Linked DNA regions of Homo sapiens: region 2 is reported to be linked to region 1. The links are microRNA targets in miRTarBase. Many come from high-throughput screens and were not tested one by one. Region 1 holds a microRNA gene; the other region holds the end of a gene's coding sequence.
The links. The annotated mature microRNA hsa-miR-190a-5p reads UGAUAUGUUUGAUAUAUUAGGU and lies in region 1 at 1,273-1,294, shown strand. An mRNA with a match to its seed (bases 2 to 7 or 8) in the 3' UTR can be bound and repressed. Matches are read on the target gene's strand: a 7mer-m8 pairs with bases 2 to 8, a 7mer-A1 pairs with bases 2 to 7 and ends in A, and an 8mer does both.

Region 1 (4,403 bases):
GAAGGAATATTATGCAGCTATAATATTATGCAGCTATGAAAAATAATGGTTGCTAGGACTGTGTAGCACGAAGAAAATGCTCATGGTATAACAGAAAGGATGCAGAATTATGTACTTATTATGATTACAACTCTAAAAACTCACAGATGAAGAAAATAAGTAGGGAATGTACAAGAATGATGATGGAATTGGGATGATGGAAGGGTCTGTGTTTTAACATTTTATAAAACAAAGGTTTAAAAAATAACAGCACCTTAAAAATTAATGACTGCTGAAGTAGGCCTGTGAGGACTCCCTACAGTACTCTAGGATCATATAGCCTTTGTGTTTACATTGAGGGTTTTTACAGGAAAGCCAAGGAGTCCTTCGGCCAAGGTCAAGGTTAACATAACTGATGATGTGAATCCTTTGTTTGAGGGTTCCTACCTTAGCTCACTCCCATCGTATTAGGAAGGGTGATGGGTACTTCTAGAATGCTTCACAATGGTCTGAAGTCTTTCTCTGCCTGATGGCCAGAGGTGGATATTATCTATGAAACTGTTTTGGAAAACCTGCAACCCAAACCATAGTTTTTGTGCCTAATAGGGCACATTGCAATAACTTTTGCATGAAATATCTTCCTTGCCTTTATAAAGGAATTTATTTCCCCAATTAAAAAACAATAACAACAATCTGCACCAAAATCAGCCAGTCTTTTGAGTTGAATCACTTCTCTCCATTCTCTCCCAAAACCTTAAAAAAATCCTCAGGGTACTGTCAGTAAACAATTGCTTATTACATCCCTATAACCCTACCCTGGTACACACACATGCCTTCAGTATAAAATGGATGTGTGTTCCTTCTGGGGAGTATTCACACTGCTTTCAGGAAGAGTTTGGGGAGAGACAGTAATTTTGTCTAAAATGCTCTGCTCACCACCGTCTCAGGTTGCCTGTTTTTAAAGGAGAATGGCTCATGGTCTTTGATGATGATTCTGGTACATTTCCACCTCAGGCTCTTAAAACTTAAGCATCACTTTTTGCCTGGGATCTCCCAGACATGCACCGTTGAATCTGCTGTTCACCTGGGGAGATGAGAATGTCAGTGAGCGCTGGTGCATGTGCTGACAGTATTGTTAATGGCGCCGTTTCCACATCTGCAGGCAGACTTGTGCTCCAAAGACAGTTATCGGAGTTGCTGCAAAAGTGACCACCCCCTGCAGCCGTAACCTTCAATACTGTGCCTAGTCTCGAGCTCAGTCAAACCTGGATGCCTTTTCTGCAGGCCTCTGTGTGATATGTTTGATATATTAGGTTGTTATTTAATCCAACTATATATCAAACATATTCCTACAGTGTCTTGCCCTGTCTCCGGGGGTTCCTAATAAAGTTTATAAGGCAACAGGAAAGAACACGTTAAAATCACAAGTAGATTTAGAAGATGGAGCACTCATTACAATTCATGTTATCTTCCATTTCTTCTTATAGCATTTGAGACCTGTATCAGTATTACTGGATTACTTGCTTATTATAGAAACAATAAGTGTTGATGTTTCATAAGAGCCTGGGGTATTCTGTGTGGCTTAGTTTTGTGCAGTGATGAATCCTTAAGGAATTCAATATGCTTGGTGGAAAAAACGGTTCCAACCCATGTCTGTGACACAGAATAAAGGTCAGGATTATAGCCTCAAACACATCTAGATTCATGTTTCATTTTGGTTCATTTTTATCCTGATCTTCAATTTAGAAGTTCATGTCAGGGTTTCAGCAAAAATTCAAGGAGCACAGATCAGTTTTCTATGACTTCCCTTTCCACTCACAGTAACAGAATGTATAAAGCAAATCCTCCATACCAGCTGCATGGATACTGAGTCAGTGAGCTTTGTACAAACCTTGGATATAGGACTAAATATATCTCATGAAGGTAATATAATGTTGACTGAACTCTTGAATTTCCTGTTATAGGTTAACTTGTCAGTGGAGGTTGGTAATATTTAGAATAAGCCAACAATCGGAAAGTAATATCATAGCCTAATTGACTGTGGCAGGAAGTTTGGGATTATGATATAGAAAACATTTTTTCTGGTACATAACAGCCTTCTTTGGTTGGTTTTGACCTCTTCCTTATAGAAAAGCCTGTGAAGTATGTGTGAGTTCATTCTGAGTTCTCTCAACAAACAAAATACTTTGTGAGCACTGCTTTCTGGAAAGAGAACTACTGTTCTCAATGTTTTGGAGGAGAAAAGGTGTAAGCAAATGGTTTAAACAGGTAGTCATGAAAGCTTCCCCTTACTGTGTCTAGAAGTCATTGCCACATTGCTTACAGGTGAATGCATAGTGACAGGGTCACCAACAGCAACATCAGAGAGGTGATGACACAGGAGAGGGTCCTGTAATGTTGGAGTCCTGGCTTCTGGAGTTACATAATGGATCCTGTCTCTGGAATCCTTCTCCATTGAGAAGCGATCTGTGTGTGTTGGCAGGTGCTCTGTCAGGCGGGTTTCAAGATGCTGCCCCAATCAGTCCCTCCTTCACACAGCTAGAGAACACCGGCTTTGGTTTTGAGTCCAGTTACATTGTTTGACTGAAATGGCAAATGGCCATGGAAAAGAGACAGCAAGTTATTACGAACAAAGAAAAACATGGTTTCAAAAGGACCTGCAGACGAAGCCCAGTTGTTTGAATTGATGTGATTTTCTTGTTTCTTTGGGTGACTTTGTCACTGACCAGCATGTTCTCTGTAGTGATTAATATGGTGAAGGGAAAAAGGAACCAACTGTTCAGGAAGGAGGAGGACAAATACAGCATTTTCTGTATGGCTGCACTTGGGCTTTGAGTGGCACTCATTGGTTCCAGACCAGGAGCATACAGGGTGTGAAAAGCAAGTATGGGGCCGGGCATGGTGGCTCACACCTGTAATCCCAGCAGTTTGGGAGGCCAAGGTGGGCGGATCATTTGAGGTCAGGAGTTCGAGACCAGCCTGACCAACAGCTGGGTTTCACCCAGTCTCTACTAAAAATACAATATATATATAAATATAAATATATATAAAAATATATTTTTATATATATTAAATATAATTATAATTATATATTATATAATATATTATATATTATAATATATATTATATATTATATTATAATATATATTATAATATATAATATATATAAATATATTATATATATATATATTTATATATATATATAATAAGTCAGGCATGGTGGTGCACGCCTGTAGTCCCAGCTACTCAGGAGGCTGAGAATCGATTGAACTTGGGAGGCGGAGGTTGCCGTGAGCCGGGATCGTGCCACTGCACTCCAGCCTGGGTGACAGAGTGAGACTCGGTCTCAAAAACATAAATAAATAAGAAAAGCAAGTATGGGAGACTCCCCTCCAGGGTAGACCAGTAGGTCCTTGTCAGATCCTTCACAGACACAGAAAGGGGGCTTAAGATGTAGGGAGTTTATCTGATACAGCTTGGGAAGAACCCTGTTATCTTTTGTCTGTGCTTTCTATATCGACATTCAAGGGCCCCTTAAACAGAAATAGTGATTAAAAGATTATTTCAGTGGCGTTGCTTTCCATTTTGAACACAAAAGTAAAGCAATGGATACTATGGGAAAACTACTCCCAAGATACTAATCATGCAGGTGCGGACCTTTTCCAGCAGACACTGCATGAACTCGCGCGTATTCCTCGGATGCGGAGGGTGTGGTCCCTCCCCAGTCACAGGCACAGCCATTTGGCAGTTTCTCTGCCACCCATTTTGCCTGTTTAAGGTCTCTCTGGAGCTTTCCCTGAGACAAGGCCAGCTGTCCATGCCTGGCTCTTAGCAGTTCCAGTTGTTCTGGGAGGTGTACCTTTTGTTTGAACTAATAAAGGTGGCAGTCCTGAAGCCACCCCATCCATGGGTCCTCCAGAGGAGAAGCTGATCTAACCTTTGCACAGTTTGGGGCTTTGCATACAGGCTAAGGCCTCCCTCAAGGCACCTCTCAGTTCAATACCAGAAGCAAACTAGTAGCAGCCAAACTTGCAACAACAAAAAAAAAAGAGAAATGTGGCTGCCTGCTCCACTCCGGCTTCCAACTGGCAGGAAAATGCCTCACTCCTGTTGTGGGAGTTCTAGACACTGGCCTCCTTTTTTCCCTCAAGGACATTTAAATTAAATGCAAAATGTTCACACTTTAAAAAATATATATCCAAGAGGGTTTTTTTAAAGTTTCTGATGCACTATGACCTTATTTTTAGTAGCAGGCATTCTGCAAGACTCTGAGTAACACAGAGCAAAGCCTGAGACCCCACTGGAAAGATGACACGGGTGGTTCTTCAGTTTGTGGAGCCAGTTGTGAGAAGGGCGACCATTGTGTTTTTAGCTCTCAACAAAGCATTCCCTCAAAGTAAGTTTTCAGGGAGGGAGGCAAGCCC
Region 2 (4,361 bases), not on the chromosome of region 1:
AAAATAATGTAGTCCCTTTATGGACTATAAGTAACTTAATGCTTTTCTTTCCCTATTTCATATCCCCATATTTGGTGCAATAATTTAATTCACTTACTTCATTATTTTGTTTTGCATTGTATTTTACACCTACATTTACACTATTAACTTATTTGTACATACTTAAATGGTTTCAGTGTGAAAAAGCAGCTTCTGACCTAGCATTCACACTAGGCGGTGGCGTTCTCCTGCTGAACATTTAACAATTCTCAAATCTCTAACATCAGATGAGGTCACTGTAATCCGGATAAAATGAGATACTGTAATCATGCCTGAGCACAGATAAAAACAAAGTCACTGTGCAAACCATAAACAGCCAACCTCTTCTTGTGGCTAACATGGGTGACTGTTGCTTCTTTCCTTTCCTCCCACCCACAACATAAAAATTAAGATACCCAGTTGCAAAATCACTCCCACTTTCTGACAGCACTCAATCCACTTTCTGACAGCACTCAATCCAGAAGAAACCCTTGCTCACTTGAGCCCTCCTTAAAATTAGCTACATGTGCTCAAATTCTTAGCAAGCCCCTCCTTACACCTTCCCACTGAGAAGCACCCATAGACCCCAGTGGTGTGCAGTCTCTCTTGCTGCAGCAAGCATCAATAAAACTAATTTTGATTATAATTATGCCCTGGTGATCTTTGATGACATCAACAAATGATGAGCATCAACAAATGTTTGCCGCAGAATTTTCTACCATCACCTACCCTCCAATCTTAAAGTTTTGAATTATCTCTTTATGATACCCTGTCCCCTGGTTGGACTATCAGCCCTATTAAGACTCAAGCCCCAGAGCTTTCTCTTGTGCCTGGAATATGGCAGGATCATAATTAGACGAGGAAAGGATGAATGTTTTTCTACTTACATATTTCTATAAATATTTTAGAGGGAAATTAGAAGATGATTCAGTAGTTTGTATTGGGCCTACTTGTCTTGATTTTTTGAAAACTGTATAATTTTGAATAACTTCTATATATCAGGATCTGTAATTGTTATTTTTATATCAATAAAAAAAACCTCTAATACTTCTATTGAAAAATATTGATTACATAACAACATGAAAATAACTTGGCTAACGCTCACAACTATGTAAAAAAATGCATTGGAGAGACAGAAAAGAAATACATGAAAACATTGGCAGCAGTTACCTTTAGGTGACAGAACTGTGGGTTAATTTTATTCTTCCCTATATTTTCTGTATTTTCCAAATTTTCTGAAGTCACTATGATTGCATTTTAACAATGGTTAAAACTATTGATTTGCATACTCATGGGAGAAAAACAGCTATGCCTAGAAACTGGCCTCTAAAACATTTCTCACAGTAGAGAGGCTCAATTGTCATGAATGTGTGAATAATACTAACAAGTCAAAACATAGTTCTGTAATGTGTTCAAGCCACATTATCCTAGAGGTTAACTGCTCAGAAGAATCTCACAAAGAGTCAAAGTCAGAGGACAAAGCCATTAGTGTGAAGAAACAGTAAAATCATAAAAAAGAAGACAGTCAGGACAAGAAATACCTGAAGCAAAATGACACAAAATGGATGTACTATAAATTATGGATGAAAGTAACAGGGTAGGAAATCAGAGCATAACCAAGCTTGGGCATGTCTGCTTTACCTCTTTGTCACTTAATCAACTCGAGCCTTCCACTGCCAACAGTCTTCTTACACAGTGGATCCTCGAAATAATATCACCACTCCTTTCAACCACAATCAATCATCAATAAAATGCAAATAAAAAGATTGTACTTAAACACTATTGGAGAAGGAAGGAATGAATAAATGCATTCATTTCTACTACTATTTGTTTATGCTAAACTGTAAACTAAAATTCTTAATTCGATCACAGTCTTATATAATATACAGAGTGGATGGTTTCTTGTTTTTACTCCCCCTACCTTAAACCCCAATCCATTTCCCCTTCCTAACAGCACCCTGAATTTCCAACCCTCACACAACTGTTAGCTACATGCTTTGTGTGATATTAACTTCACACTCAAACACAGGATATCCTAGGGAAGTATTAATAAATAAAATTCAATCATAGTCAATGATGAGATGTTTCTAGGACTTCTGGAGAAGATATGCTCTTTTAGTCTGTCCTTGCCCTGGATGGGAGATCTGAGGATGTAAGTGTGGAATTATCACATCTTGTCAAGAACCTGGCATTACAGAAGAGGTTTTTTATGGGTGGCAGGGTGACAGGTCTTGCTCTGTCACCCAGGCTGGACTGCAGTGATGTGATCATGGCTCACTGCAGCCTCGACCTCCTGGGCTCAAGTGATCTTCCCACCCCAGCCTCCTGAGAAGCTGGGACTACAGGCATGTGGCACCACACCCAGCTGATCTGTTTTTAAATTTTTTCTGTAGAGACATGGTCTCACTATATTGCCTTAGCTGGTCTCAAACTCCTGGGCTCACGCTATCCTCCCGACTCAGCCTCCCAAAGTGTTTTGATTACAGGTGTGAGCCACCGCGCCCGGCCGAGAGTTCTATATAGAGTTTGAGAGCAAAACCAGCACCAGGGAAGGCAGAGTGGAGATGAGTCCTTGCTAACATTGTGTGAGCTGCTCGATCTAAATGGAATCAAAGCTAGAGCTACCTCTAATTTTCTCAGTTATGTCATTCAAAAATTTTTCTTTCTGCTTCAGTCACTTGAAGTTAGATTTCTGTCACATATATCTGTTAAATTCTTGATTAATATTAATATTTAAATAAAACTTTCTTAACTCAGTGAATCTGAAGTGACAACTACACATGTATTTTGGTAAAGCAATATACCAAGTGTGTTCACTTGGTAATCATTCACTAAGCAACACATGTATAATCTGCCTACTTTACCATACAGATGTTATTGCTTATGTTCAAAATGTCAGGTTCACGAAAAGGTGCAGGGAGAAGAAATGCTGTTGTATATGTTAAGCCATCGATATACAAATCACGCTGCTAATAAAAAAAAAAGCTTATCATAAACAGTCTATCAGATCAGAGTTCCAGGTTCAGCTGAGGTCAAAATCTACTCTAAAGCTCCTTGCACCCAGAAGGCACCTCAACGAATACCTGTTGTTAAATAAATAAACCTTGGGGTTTGTTGTTGAAACTTTAAAGAAAAACATGACTCTTACTTACTCACAGGGGACTTATAATCTATAAGGTAAGCAAGATAAAGAAAGGGCCATCATAGGTATAATTCTAAAAGTGAGAATGGGAAAAGCAAGTTATGGTTAAAAAAATGAATGAGATGAAATTGGATCTGCCATTAGGATAAAAAAGAATTCATGTGACAGAGCTAGGAAACTCTTAGGTGAAAAAGATCCCACAAAACCCCTAAATCATATTTACTGTTAGTGGCAGAGAATCTCATAAATGTCTAAAGAACAAAACACAGTTTGTATTATGCTCAAACTAAGGCATTTTATTAGCTGGCTTTACAACTTAAATAATATCTTGGCTTTCAAAGGAACAGCTTCCACTAATTCCAAATTAAACTTTCACAAGTTTACTTGTTTGGGGAGGGACATTCTTATGGTCACCACAAAATACTTTTATTATAACCTTCCCCAAATCTTTTCTTAGCATTAACTGGAAAAAAAAAAAAAAAAAAAGCTTAGGTCAAATATCAACTGCCTGAAAAACCCAATTAAGTTACTTTTCCTTAAAACATGTGCAGTATAATTGAATCAAAAGAGAAAACTGCAAATACATTGTGCTTTGGCCAGAAGTAGAGTTCATTTCATGATGATTCAGTATCTTCAGATACTATTTTTGACACTTGCCATAAATCTTAGCAAAGTAAATCCATTTATTAACGTTTCAAAGGCAAAGTTGTTTTTAACATTAGACTTTCTTTGCCAGTTGGCAACTTAGAATTTTTGCAGAGGTGATTATTAATACTTCTTTGCAGCTAATTTTAGCTTTAATTTTTCTCTCTCATCTAAAAACATATCAATTGCACATTGTTCCTTTGACTTAATAACTGCATTCTTGAAACAGAGGTTAGCTATTTCACTGTATCCAGAAACGTGGTAGAAATTCTGACCCATCATTCTTTTATCTGTTAAAACAAAAAAAAAAAAGACATTTGCTGTAATTTAATCAATCACATTATAAGAACAACAAAGGGAAAATTATGGTGAAAGAATTATTATATCAAGAGAAAATCTTTTTCTTTGTCCTGCAACTTTCTTCCTTTCCTAGTCATGCCATTTCTGCAATTTACTATAATCTCTCCATTATTCTCCACAAATGACTCTATCTTATTTTTAGAATGCTCTTTTAGAAAGAATGCCTTGATAGATTAAATGTGATATTGATGGCAAC

Region 2: miRTarBase lists HBS1L as a target of hsa-miR-190a-5p. The part of its 3' UTR that is shown has no 7-base or 8-base seed match.

Annotation. Positions count from the first base shown.
Region 1 is chr15:62,822,699-62,827,101 of GRCh38, forward strand. It overlaps MIR190A (microRNA 190a), which reads left to right and starts at 1,259; the gene lies at 1,259-1,343. The region is part of intron 54 of TLN2 (talin 2); the gene reads left to right.
Region 2 is chr6:134,961,196-134,965,556 of GRCh38, forward strand. HBS1L (HBS1 like translational GTPase) reads right to left here. Exons shown (of 18, transcript NM_006620.4): 18 at 1-4,095. The coding sequence ends at 4,084. Among named protein-coding and RNA genes, the nearest start is that of ALDH8A1, 13 kb to the left of the region's middle.